2 linked regions of the Homo sapiens genome follow. Each later gene encodes a partner of the first gene's protein in a complex. Each region holds a gene or a part of one and is shown in the gene's direction. Other genes may lie near its edges.

Region 1 (6,948 bases):
AGGCATGACAGAGAATTGGGTGTTAGGGGAGAGATGCTGGAGTAGTGATGTCGCAGGAGGTGTGACTAGAAGGACAGGGAGAGGCTAAATTATGAAGGATCTGAATACTGAATGCCATGTAGTAGTTACCACCTACTACACATTTACTATGCACTTACTAAACACTGTGCTAAGCAGTTGACAAGAATTATCTCTCTCTGTCTTTTTTTTTTTTTTTTTTTTTTTTTGAGACAGAATGTGGCTCTGTCGCCCGGGCTGGAGTGCAGTGGTGCTATCTTGGCTCACTGCAACCTCCGTCTCCTGGGTTCAAGCTATTCTCCTGCCTCAGCCTCTCGACTAGCTGGGACTACAGGCACCCGCCACCATGCCTGGGTAATTTTTATATTTTCAGTAGAGATGGGGTTTCACCATACTGGCCACGCTGGTCTCGAACTACTGACCTTGTGATCTACCCGCCTCGGCCTCCCAAAGTACTGGGATTATAGGCGTGAGCCATGGCACCTGGCCAATAATTATATCTCTTAATCTTCTACGACCTTAAAAGATAGGTATTATTATCAGTCCCACTTTGCAGATGAGAAAACTGAGATTCAGAGAAGTAAAGCAACTTGTCCAAAGTCATACAGCTAAAAGACCTTAAAGTTCACACTCAAATTCAGGTCTGGCTGGCTCTAAAGCTGTGTTCTCTTTTTGTTGTTGTTTTATTTTATTTTAATTTTTAATTGGCACATAATTGTACATATTTATGGGGCACATAGTGATGTTTCAATACATAAAATGTTTAGTGATCAGATCAGGATAATTAGTATATCTGTCATCTAAAAAATGTATCATTTATTTATTTATTTATTTTGAGATGGTGTCTCGCTCTGTCATCCAAGCTGGAGTGCAGTGGCACGACGTTGGCTCACTACAACCTCCACCTCCCGGTTTCAAGTGATTCTCATGTCTCAGCCTCCTAAGTAGCTGGAACTACAGGCACCTGCCACCACTCCTGGCCAATTTGCGTACTTTTTAGTAAAGACAAGGTTTCACCATGTCAGTCAGGCTTGTCTTGAACTACCGACCTCAAATAATCTGCCCACCTTAACCTCCCAAAGTGCTGGGATTACAGGCGTGAGCCACCGTGCCTGGCCTCACAAATATATAATTTATTTGTCTCCAGCACAAACATTCAATATCCTTCTTCTAGCTATTTGAAAATATTATTGTTAATCATAGTTATCCCCCAGTGATATAGAACACTAGAATTTTTTTTTTTTTTTTTGAGATGGAGTCTCACTCTTGTTGCCCAGGCTAGAGTGCAATGGTGCGATCTTGGTTCACTGCAACCTCCGCCTCCGGGGTTCAAGTGATTCTCCTGCCTCTGCCTCCTAGTAGGTGGGATTACAGGCACCCGCCAACGTGCTCGGCTAATTTTTGTATTTTTAGTAGAGATGGGGTTTCGCCATGTTGGCCAGGCTAGTCTCAAACTCCTGATCTAAGGTGATCTGCCCACTTCAGCCTCCCAAAGTTTTGGGATTACAGGTGTGAGCCACCACACCCGGCCAAGAACACTAGAATTTATTCCTCCTATCTAAATGTAATTTGGGGCCAAGCGAGGTGGCTCACACCTGTAATCCCAGCACATTGAGAGGCTGAGGAGTGGGGATCACTTGAGCTCAGGTGATCACCGTGGGCAACATGATGAAATCTCATCTCCACAAAAAGTACAAAAAATTAGCCAGGCGTGGTGACACGAGCCTGTAGTTCCAGCTACCCACGAGGCTGAGGTGCGATGATCACTTGAACCCAGGAGGTCGAGACTGCAGTGAGCAGTGATTGCATCACTGTATTCCAGCCTGGGTGACAAAGTGAGATCCTATCTCAAACAAACAAACAAACGAACAAACAAATGTAATTGGGGGCCAGTGTGGTGGCTCACAGCTGTAATCCTAGCACTTTTGGAAGCCAAGGTGGGAGGACAGCTTGAGCCCAGGAGGTCAAGGAGGCAGTGAGCCATGATCCTGCTGCTGCACTCCAGCCTGGGCAATAGAGACCCTGTCTCAAAAAAAATTGTAATTTTGTGTCTTTTTTTTTTTTCTTTTGAGATGGAGTCTTGCTCTGTTGCCAGGCTGGAGTGCAGTGGCACAATCTCAGCTCACTGCAACCTCTGCCTCCCGGGTTCAAGCGATTCTCCTGCCTCAGCCTCCCTAGTAGCTGGGACTACAGGTGCGCGCCACCACACCCAGCTAATTTTTGTATTTGTAGTAGATACGGGGTTTCACCATGTTGGCCAGGATGGTCACAATCTCTTGACCTCGGGATCTGCCCGCTTCAGCCTCCCAAAGTGCTGGGATTACAGGTGTGAGCCACTGTGCCAGGCCCAATTTTGTCTTTTTTTTTTTTCTGAGACGGAGTCTTGCTCTGTTTCCCAGGCTGGAGAGCAAATGGCGCGATCTCGGCTCACTGCAACCTCCGCCTCCCGAGTTCAAGCAATTCTCTGCCTCAGCCTCTCGAGTATCTGGGATAACAGGCGCCCACCACCACGACCAGCTAATTTTTGTATTTTTAGTAGAGATGGGGTTTCGCCATCTTGGCCAGGCTGGTCGTGAACTCCTGACCTCATGATCCACCCCCTTCGGCCTCCCAAAGTGCTGGGATTACAGGTGTGAGCCACAATTTTGTGTCTTTTAACAAATCTTTCCCTGTCCCTTCCTTCCCCCTGCTCTTCCCAGCCTCCAGTATCCTCTGTTCTTTCACTTCTATGAAATCAACTTTTTAAAAGCGTCACATATGAGTGAGAACATGCAGTGTTTTAACTTTCTGTTCGTGGCTTAAGTCAGTTAACATGTCCTCCAGTTCCATCCATGTTGCTGCAAATGACAGGATTTTCTTCTTTTTAATGGCTGAAAAGTATTCCATTGTGTATATACACCCTATTTCCTTTATTCATCTGTTGTTGGACACAGAGATTGATTTCCTATTTTGGCTACTCTAAGTAGTGCTGCAATAAATATGGGGGTGCATAAATATGGAGTGCAGACGTCTCTTGGATATACTGATTTCCTTTTTTTTTTTCCTCCTAAATTGGCTTCCTCAGGTTGAATTATGTCCTTTCCTTTGGATAAATGTCTATGGCTGTGTTTTTAACCACAATACTATGCTTCCTTCCTCAAGGATTTTTGACTTTATCTTGTAGATGATGTGGAGCCATTAAAAATGTTTGAGGACAGGAGTGGCAAAACGTGGGTTTTTAGAAAGTTTCCTACTAGCAGCAGTGTAGAAAATGGACTGGAGCGGAGAGAATGACCTCTTCTAAAAGAAAATGTGAGCTGGGGGCGCAGGCTTATGCCTGTAATCCCAGCACTTTGGGAGGCCGAAGCGGGCGGATCACCTGAGGTCAGGAGTTCGAGACCAGCCTGGCCAACACGGTGAAAGCTGTCTCTACTAAAAATACAAAAATTAGTTGGGCATGGTGGCGGGCGCCTGTAATCCCAGCTACTCGGGGGACTGAGGCAGGAGAATCGCTTCAGCCCGGGGGACGGAGGTTGCAGTGAGCCGAGATCGTGCCACTGCACTCCAGTCTGGCGACAGAGCGAGGCGAGACTCCGTCCCTACGGAAAAAAAAAACCATATATATATATAAAATAAAAATAAATAAAATAAAATGTGTTGACTTAGGGTTATGGGGGTCTTCGTACCACCAAGTGGACTCATTGAGCAAGGGAGATCGCTGGGTACTAGAGCAAGCGGCCTAGAGCATCCGCGCAGGAGTAGGAGAGGCTGAAGAGTAAAGAGGGTTTAGAGGGTGGGACTGGGAGTCTCTCGACACTCTGTTACTTCTGCCTGTAAACGCCCGACTTCCGCCGCTGGTGGCCACCCGCAGGTAGTGATGTCGAGCGTCGAGCTCCCAAAACCGAGCTGGTGAGGGGCTGCAGGTGGCGGCGCAGTCTCGGTAGGCGGTATGAGTTTGGCTGGGGGCCGGGCACCCCGGAAGACCGCTGGGAACCGGCTTTCTGGGCTTTTGGAGGCAGAGGAGGAAGATGAGTTCTACCAGACGACTTATGGGGGTTTCACAGAGGCAAGATCCGGGCCTGGGAAAAGGGAGGGGAGGAGGCAAAGAGGAGCCCTGAAGGGAGAAACCCCGGACAAAGAAGAAGAGGGCGGGGAATAGAGAGGAGCTCTGGGAGCTGATACTCGAGTTGGGTGGGTGAATCGGAGCCGGGGGGCGAGGCGGGGGAACGGATAGTGTGGAGTCCTAGAAGGGAGAGCTCTGGATGGGGTCAAAGGGGCCTGAGACGGAGAAGCTCTCCGGAGGCACTCCAGAGAACAGAGAACGGCAGAAACCTACCGTATACTTGCGTGGTTGCATCTTTCACTGTACTTCTGACGTCCAGCATACACGAGGCACACACATAGTAGTAGACAGTTGCTCGATGTATACTCGTTGGCCCACTGCTGGATTATTCACCTGAGACATGGAAAGGAACCGCTCCAAAAGTAGAGGAGCTTAGCCCACTTCTTTTTCAGCTTTCAGGTCTCAGTGTAAATGTTTTCTCAGGAAGATAACCCTTCCTTGACTATCCTAACAAGTGTCCCCATTTATTTCTTCCACAGAACATATTTCAATTTGCAATTAGATTTGGTTTGCTTACTTGCTTATGCTTTTCTATTGCATTGTAAACTGTATAAAGTTAGAGATGGTCTGTTTTGTTCAACATTATGTGTGAGGTGTCCGGACTGGGCTGCCACTTGCTAAATTTTTATTAGTTGAATCTACCCGTTTATTAAATGTGTTGAGTACCCAGAGCATGCCATCGGTAATAGGTTGTTTTAGGCTCTAGGGAAACAGAATATTAAAAACAGTGCTCTGTCCTTACATACTCCATGCCCCAGTGGGGTAACTGCCTGGGTTAACAGTTAAAATACTGTGTGATAGGCCGAGCACAGTGGCTTTGGCCGGGCACAGTGGCTCACGCCTGTAATCCCAGCACTTTGGAAGGCCGAGGCGGGTGGATCACAAGGTCAGGAAATCGAGACCATCCTGGCCAACATGGTAAAACCCCCTGTCTCTATTAAAATACAAAAATTAGCCAAGCGTGGTGGTGTGCGCCTATAGTCCCAGCTACTCAGGAGGCTGAGGCAGAGAATCGCTTGAACCTGGGAGGAGGAGGTTGCAGTGAGCCGAGATCGTACCACTGCACTCCAGCCTGGGCGACAGAGCAGGACTCCGTCTCAAAAACAAACAAAAAATGTGTGATAAGGACTAAAACAAGGTGTAAGAGTGTTAAGGTAATACATCTGAACCAAAGTTGTTGATCAGGATAGGCATCCCTGGAGGGATGATGTTTAAGCTGAGGACAGTTTGAAAAGTAGACCTTAGCTTGATGAAAAGCAGGAGAAGGAGAAAGGTTAGTCCACAGAGCAGGATGGGCTGAGTATGTAAAGACATTGAGATCCTGGTCTAGGACCTGCAAGTCTACTTTCATTCTCCAGAGCATGAAGGAGACTAAAGATTGATAAGCCTGCAGGGAGTAGGCATGGGCCAGATCCTTTAGGGCCTTGTGAGCTATGTTAAGGAATTTTGCTCTTCATCCAGAGGACTGAGAAGAGTCATCAGAATTCCACGATGAAATTTGTACTTTAGGAAGGTTACTTACTCTGTAATGAGAATGGCTTGAAGGGGGCATGGCAGTAGAGAAACAGAAAGATTCAAGAGAAATTAAGGAATAGAACCCACAGGACTTAGGGGCTGGGTGTGGTGGCTCACGCCTGTAATTCCAGCACTTTGGGAGGCTGAGGCGGGTGGATCACGAGGTCAGGAGTTCGAGACCAGCCTGACCAACATGGTGAAACCCTGTCACTACTAAAAATGCAAAAAATTAGCTGGTTGTGGTGGCGTGTGCCTGTAATTCCAGCTACTTAGGAGGCTGAGGCAGGAGAATCACTTGAACCCAGGAGGCAGAGGTTGCAGTGGATTGCGCCACTGCCCTCCAGCCTGGGCGACAGAGTGAGACTCTGTCTCAAAAAAAAAAAAAACCCACATCACTGACAGAGTCATTACTGACACAGCCCTAACCAACTAGTTTAAAATAGAACTTTCTCATCCCTCCTCTAAGGCCATTTTCCTATTTCTGTCATTTTACGACTTGTTATTTAATATGTACCCTTCATGCTTCCAAAAAGGATTTAAGGAGGCTTACAATATAAACAAAAAGTAGGAACAGTAAAAATAGAGACAGATCAGAAGTAATTGTACCAGGAACCTCTGCTAAAATGGTAATAGCAATTGATATTAAATTTAGTTGTGAGCTTCCTGGTAGCCAAACCTTGTATTTCTTTTTTTAGTAAGAAAGAAGCATACAAGTTCTTCAAGAGACACAAACTTTTTCAGCCTTAAATCCTAGGGAGCATTTATCATTATATCCTTATATTATAAAAAGTAATGGTTTTCATAGATGATATACAAACATTCTCTTTTCTAGTGATGTCTCTTAATGACTCTCAATAAAAGCCGAAGGAATGGTAGTAAATCCTTAATTTAGTGCAAGTATGTTGATTGGGCACTAAGCTAATGTGTGGTTGATCTACTACCCTCTGGTGATATGGCTTAATACCAGATTAAAGCTGAGGGGATTAATGTGTTCCCAGGCTGTCTTTTACAAACATCAGTTAGGAGGAAATGATGGTCATCAGTGCAAAATTGAACTCTGGCTGGCTTGGAGTGTCAGCCATCTGTGTTATTTGCTTGCTTTGGCATCATGTGTACCAAGATTAGCCCATTAGTCTGCATCACTGATTGAAGAGAGAACCACATATGTGAGGTGTCAGCCAGCCCAGTTGACTCCCTCTCCCTCAAGTGGCTTTTTTCCCTTTTCTTTATAATATGGCTGCCATTCTAGCCCTAACCAGTTCACCTGAGGTCTAGGCTGTACTTCACGTTCTCTACTCCAGGCCATCTAACTG
Region 2 (7,115 bases), on another chromosome or scaffold:
AGCTTCTTCATTTCCTCCTGTCGGATCTGCTTGCTGTCTAGCCAGATTACCTCATTGGAGAGCAAGGGCTTCAGATCAGGTGTTGGATGAAGTTGGCCTTGGAGGCTATTGAAGATCAGCGCCAGGGACCGGGGGAGAATCCCTCCATCCTTGATGGTACCTGGAGGCATATGAAAGATGGACAGCTGAGGCAAGTGCCCTTCTCCCCCTAACTCAGAGTCTCAAAAGGTAAAAACAACACCATTACCAGCCAATCAGGAATCCCGTGAAGGCTTACTACTCACCTTGAATCGTGTGGGTTTTCCCTGAGTTAGTGACTCCATATGTATAGATGAGCCAGTTCTGCCCTTTGAGTACATCCTTTACCATCTCCTTCACAGTTAGGTTGAAGAAGGATGCCTGTCCCACTTCTGGCCCAAAGATCTAGAGAGAGACCCAGTTTTTTAGAGGCCTCTCCTTCATCTCCCACTTGCCTCCTGTGCAGAGCCAGCAGATATATTCCTTCCTGAGTGGTTGGCTCTGGAGACCACTCAAGCAGCTTCTTCCTGCAATGCTGCTGGCTGTTCCCTAAACACTGAGGACTCAAGCACTCTCTGCTAGTCCATCTTTCCACCAAATCAACAAACACTTAAGGAATGCTATGCCCTAGGCCTGATGCTGCACACACAATGGGGCAATATAATGGCCCACAAGTATGGGCTTTGGAGATACATGGATCTAGACTCAGGTCCTAACTCTACTAGTGACTAGCTACATGGCTTCAGCAATATTACATTCATTGAGCCACACTATCCTTGTGAGGAAAATAAGGAAATAATGATAATAACAATAGAATTTTTCAGAACTGATATACATATGTTACTTGACACATTGACTAACACATAACTAGGGCCCTCAAAATTGTAGGTGTGCATATACAAGGAACTCACAGTCAGGAAGAGAAGCTTTCCCTCTAAAGAGGGAATAAAGTTGCCCTTACATGTTGGTCTTTTGTTCACAAACCAGTACCCTCCATACCTGGGAAAAGGTGAACCTGTGTGTGGCTTGGCCAATTCCCCGTTCATTGCTCTTCAGGGCAAAAGAGTCCTTGGGTGCTTGTAGAACAAGGGTCTCCACATTCTCAATACGGACACAACCCTGAGAAGGGAGAAAATACAGTTGTCACAGAAGGCATTCCTGGGAATCTTTTGTACTGCATCATTTCACCTTGAATCCTCCCTTCTCAGACACTTACCTGATCTTCCTGTCGTTCCAACTCTGAAGGTAACAAGGGCCTAACCCTCAAGTATACTTTCACCTTCTCCATACTGTCCTCAGATGGAACCTGTGGCAGAATCCCAGCCCAGAACCACAGATTAATTTCAGCAGTTACCTCTGAGCAAATGGGCAAACAGTAGTTTCTAGGAACTATGATAACACTACCCCATTTCACCTCAAATGTCTCTGTGCAGCTACTCTTTGGTTCCACAATCATTCCAACCCACATGGACATTTTTACTACTTTGTCACCCTTCCCTGTCTCGTCATTATCCTGCAAATGTGGCTTGCCACACCGATGATCTGAGTTCGAATTTATTGACTGGTATGAAAATTAGTATGTGATATTAAAGCAAAGCAGAGGCAAACACTTGAATTTGAGTCCCAATTCCATGACTTAGTAACTATGAGACCTTGAATTATGAGTTCTTGAAATTCTTGGCCTCAGTTTCCTCATCTGCAGAATGGGGTTAATAATAGCACCTATGTCATTCATTCAACAGATACTTAGAGGCTGGGTGCAGGGGCTCACGCCTATAATCCCGGCACTTTGGGAGGCCAAAGAGGGTGGATCACCTGAGGTCAGGAGTTCCAGACCAGTCTGGCCAACACAGCAAAACCCCATCTCTACTAAAAATACAAAAATTAGCTGGGCTTGGTGGTAGGTGCCTGTAATTCCAGCTACTCAGGAGGCTGAGGCAGGGAGAACTGCTTGAACCCGGGAGGCGGAGGTTGCAGTGAGCAGAGATTGTGCCACTGCACACCAGCCTGGGGGACAGAGCGAGACTCCATCTCGAAAACAAAAAAACCCAAAAAACAAAAAAAACCCAGATATTTAGAGTGTCTACTATGGCCTAGGAACCGAGAAGCTCTGATAGTCCATAGTGAGAGACATCATCAAGGACCATGCTCTCATGGAACTTTATAAGTCTCTAAGAGAAACTCTATAAGAGCACAAAATCTGACAATGTATGTTAATGTTTAGCATAGGACCTAGTACAGTGTTTCTCAACCAGGGTCATTTCCACTCCAAGGGCCATTTAGCAATGCCTGAAGTGCCTGAAGACATTTTTTGATTGTCACAAATGGGAAGGCACTACTGACATCTAGTGGGTAAATGCCAAGAATGCTATTAAACATCTTGAAATGTACAGGACAGATCCCTACAAGAACTGTCTAGCCCCAAATGTCAATAATGCTGTAACTGAGAAACCCTGGCCTAGCAGGAAACCTACAACAAATTGAAGCTATGGTGATACTATTAAAACCTGAACATACATTCCACTTACATAATGCCTATATGACCTTGTGCAAATTATTTAGCACAACTGGGCCTCAAGGCAAAGAGAGATAACTATTATTCCCTGAAAGATTAACTAAGAGCATGCATTTGAGGCTATTTCATTAATGCAATGCAAATTATAGTTCTTCTGGACACACAACTCAATTTTTTTTTTACTTGTCATGCCCTTAATTTTTTTTTCTTTTTTTCTTTTCATAGCCATTTTGTCCTAAATGCCCTTAATTTTGAATTGATCTCAGACCTTTAGGATTGCTAGTCTTTGACCTCATACTACCCTGTATGGACAATTATTGGCCTGAGGATATCACTTTCCGCCCCAGCCACTCCCCAGTTCCTTTACCTGCTGCTTGTCCTCTAGGGAGGTAGAGACGACAGAGCAGTCTGATAGCAGGTTCTTGCGTACCACAGACCCCAAATCTGCAGCTGTGGACTCAAACATGGGAGAAACTACGACATCGTCATCGGACAGCAAGCCCGCTGGCGGAGAAAGGATCCCTTGCGACATGACGGCAGGGGCAGCCTAGGTCTAAAAAGAGACCAAAAAGTGGGCAGGGAGAAGAACCTTTAGGGACAGAAGGGGCCGCGAATTTTAGGTAATAAGTCCCTTGCCCCAGGACACCGTGTCCCGCTTCCTACTTCTTTTCCCCTCCAATTATCGGCAAAGGGGAAGGGAATGAGAGAAGTTCACTTAATGAACAATTGAGAGAAGTTTGAGGCGGCATTTCTGAACGCGAACAGAAGTCCACAGACATCTGGCTCCAAAAGCAGAAGGCTACGCCTAAAGTAGGGCACCTCGCCCGCCGGTGCTGTGGAGGTGGTGTCAGGATCCCTCGGCTCCTTCTCTAACCTCACCCCAAGGACCACCGTGAGAACAGAGATGCAGCATTAAGAGAAAAACAGATGGCTGCAGCTCCGATTTCTTAAAGCCTATTCCGCGCGGGCAAGAGCTGGTAACCCGGGCTCCAGCACAGCCGCACACTCACCCGAAGACGTGCCACTTGCTCCTCCTGGGATACTGGCTTACTCACACCTAGTCGCCGAAGCTGGACTTTCGCAGCCGCAGAGCACAACTCCGCCCACGAGGTGCAGCTTTGTTACAGATACAATATTTTAAATTACGCGCTGCGTTCGTTCGGCCAATCAGATAGGGAAGCCTGCAGCTACCAATCCGCGTAAGGAAAGGGGGCGGGCCTGACTGGAATTCCAGTCGTTCGCTTCTGCTTGACCTCTGAGTTCTAATGTGGGTCCGGGTTACCAACTGTCGTGGATTCGCACTTATTTTGCCTGGGATTCTTCCAACTTAACCTTTTTCCTTGAACCTTAGACATTTCTTACCTAAGAGCCTAAAGGAAATCTTGAGGCTTCAGCAGCCAACTCCTGTCCTTCCTTAGCAACAATCTTAACAGGAGTGCACAGGGTAACTGGTTTAGGGTGCTTGCTTTGTCTTAAGGGGAAAAACGACATTTCCCAGGAGGCACCGCGAACCAACGCCGGTACACTATTTCCCAGAATTCCAGGGTTTCGGCCCTTCCAGACCGTCTCTCCTCAGGGTTGGAGACTTCGGGGCCAAGATGGCGACGGGAACGGGCAGTGAGTATCTGAGCAGGTTTTGCGTGAAAGGCCTTTGTAGATCCGAGGCTAGGCACCATATTTTTGTTACACGCTTAGGGAGTGGGAGAAGTGGGTTGCTTGAGAGCCCAGGGTTTTCAGAGACCTGCGCTCTACAGCATCGTGAAGACCAACGTTTGGGGGCCCAGAAATCTGGGGTCTTGTTTCTCAGGGAGAGAGCGGAGGTGTGAGAGAAGCAGCTTAGTGAATCCTAGTGTGTTAGGAACTCTGCGGGTTAACCGTAAAAGCACTCTAGAAACTTGGGCGTGCAGACGAAAAGATGTTATGAGCCAGACGGAGTAACCGGCACCTCAAAGAGCCATTCATTTTTTTGTCTGACGTTTGTGAGGCAGTGGAAGTGGGGTCTTTTAACCATGAGCTTTTCTTGCCACTCAGGAAATTGCATCTCGGGGATTTCAGCCATTTTTCTTTTTTTGGACTGAAAAGCTCTTTTACCCCCGACATTTGGAGTAGAGGATCTGAGAGAAGTAAACAAGTTTATGCTAAGAGGGAGGCGGGGTAGTAGGAGGGGCTGGCCGCTCGGGTTCCTGGGAAATAAGCCCTGAATAAGTTCAAACTGGAATAAAGTCCAGTATTCTTAAAACTGGGCTTTTAGGGAGAACTGCCTAATCTGACATTCCCTGTTTCTTAATAAAGCGGAGCTTCAAGCCATGGCGTTTTAAGAAATAAAATGTTAATAATTCACATGCAACGAATAGGTACCCCGGTCACTGGTGATATTTCACTTGGAGAGGTGAAAATCAAGATTTGGTTATAGTAGCTCACTTTGTCCTAACAAGTTGGGATGTTTTGTATTAGGCTTTTAGTCCTCTTTTTGGGGATTTTGGAGCTTAGCACTACAGTCTCAGTGGTTGTTTCCAAGGCTTTTTTTTTTTTCTCCCTTTCCCAGAACACAAGCTGCTAAGCACTGGCCCCACAGAGCCATGGTCCATCCGAGAGAAGCTATGTTTAGCATCTTCTGTCATGAGAAGTGGCGATCAAAATTGGTAAGGTATCTAGGATGTCAGCTTTTCTGGGTCTTAGAAATTGTTAGATACTCTTTCACATCGGTAGATTTCTATAGTTAATCATATTAAGCTGTAAGTAGACTTTCTTTTCTTTTTCTTCTTTTTTTGAGACTGAGTCTCCTTCTGTTGCCCAGGCTGGAGTGCAGTGGTGCGGACACGCCCAGCTAATTTTTGTATTTTTTAGTAGAGACAGAGTTTCGCCATGTTGGCCAGGCTGGTCTCGAACTCCTGACCTCAGGTGATCCCCCCACCTCGGCCTGCCAGAGTGCTGGGATTACAGGTGTGAGCCACTGCGCCTGGCCATGCCTGGCTAATTTTGTATTTTTAGTAGAGACGGGGTTTCACCATGTTGGCCACGATGGTCTCAATCTCCTGACCTCATGATCTGTCCGCCTCGGCCTCCCAAAGTGCTGGGATTACAGGCGTGAGCCACTGCCAGGCCTATTTTTTTTTTTTTTTTTTTGAGACAAGATTGCACTCTGTGGCCCAGGCTGGAGGGCAGTGGTGTGATCTTGGCTCACTGCAACCTCCATATCTCAGGCTCAAATGATCCTCCACCTCAGCCTCTTGAGTAGCTGGGACTACAGGTGCACACCACCATGCCCAGCTAATTTTTTTTATTTTTTTGTAGAGATGGGGGTTTCATCATGTTTCCTAGGCTGGTCTCGAACTCCTGCGTTCGAGCGATCCGCCCAACCTACTGGGATTACAGGTGTGAGCCACCAGGCCAGCTGTATTTCTTTTTTTAAACAGCTTTATTGAGATATAATTCACATACTATAAAATTAACCTACTTAAAATGTACAATATAATGGTTTTTAGTATATTCACAGTTGTGCAACCATCACCACAATCTAATTTTAGAACATTTTATTCTAAGAAAAACCCCTTACTCCTTAACTGTCAGTCCATGTTGTCCCCTCCTCACCACCCCCAAGCAAGCACTCATCTACTTTCTATTAATTAATTAATTAATTTGAGACAGAGTCTCACTGTCACACAGGCTGGAGTGTAGTAGTTAGATCTTGGCTCACTGCAACCTCCGCCTCCCAGGTTCAAGCGATTATCGTGCCTTAGCCTCCCAAGTAGCTGGGATTACAGCCATGCGCCACGAGTGGCCTGGCTAATTTTTGTATTTTTAGTAGAGATGAGGTTTTGTCCAGGCTGGTCTTGAAGTAATGCACCAGTCCTGGCCTCCAAAAGTGCTGGGATTACAAGTGTGAGCCACCATACCCAGCCAACTCTCTTGTCTCTGTAGATTTGCCTATTCTGGATATTTCATACAAATGGAATGATACGTGCTCTTCTGGACTTTTTTTTGTTTTTTTTAATCACTTGACATAACACTTTTTAAGGTTCATTCTTATGTAGCATGTATCAATACTTAATTCCTTTTTTAGCTGAATAATAATCTGTTGTATGAATATACCAAGTTTTATTTATCCATCACTTGATAGACAATTGGGTTGTTTCCACTTTTTGGCCATTATGAATAATGCTGATGATGTGCACATTCGTGTACAAGGTTGTGGACAATGTTTTTAATTCTCTTGAGTTTTTTATTCAAGGAGTGAAATTGCTGGGTTATGTAGTAACTTTATTATGTTTGACTTTTTTTTTTTTTTTTTTTTTTTTTTGCAGACAGGGTCTCACTGTCACCCAGGCTGGAGTGCAGTAGTGCGATCGTGGTTCACTGCAACCTCTGCCTCCTGGGCTCAAGTGATCCTCCGGCCTCAGCCTCCTGAGTAGCCGGGACTACAGGCACATGCCATCACCCCTGGCTAATTTTTGTATTTTTTGGTAGGGATGGGGTTTTGCCATGTTGCCCAGGCTGAACTTTTTTTTTTTTTTTAATTTAAATATTTATGTTTTTGTAGAGACGAGGTCCCACTATGTTCCCCAGGCTGGTCTCCAACTCT

What was found. The genes of interacting proteins can lie anywhere in the genome.
Region 2: VPS72 (region 1) and BRD8 share a complex: the UniProt entries of both Homo sapiens proteins name them as parts of the nuA4-related complex.

The regions. Positions count from the first base shown.
Region 1 is NC_000001.11:151,187,120-151,194,067, reverse strand, and holds the start of VPS72 (vacuolar protein sorting-associated protein 72 homolog), read left to right. Parts: upstream 1-3,870; 5' UTR 3,871-3,946; coding exon 3,947-4,063; intron 4,064-6,948. UniProt on the Homo sapiens protein: Deposition-and-exchange histone chaperone specific for H2AZ1, specifically chaperones H2AZ1 and deposits it into nucleosomes.
Region 2 is NC_000005.10:138,175,631-138,182,745, reverse strand, and holds the start of BRD8 (bromodomain-containing protein 8), read left to right. Parts: upstream 1-4,115; 5' UTR 4,116-4,131; coding exon 4,132-4,150; intron 4,151-5,078; coding exon 5,079-5,175; coding exon of another isoform or gene 5,176-5,180; intron 5,181-7,115. Other genes in the region: kinesin-like protein KIF20A, read right to left, coding at 1-160, 285-423, 1,018-1,137, 1,235-1,324, 2,901-3,065. UniProt on the Homo sapiens protein: May act as a coactivator during transcriptional activation by hormone-activated nuclear receptors (NR). Isoform 2 stimulates transcriptional activation by AR/DHTR, ESR1/NR3A1, RXRA/NR2B1 and THRB/ERBA2.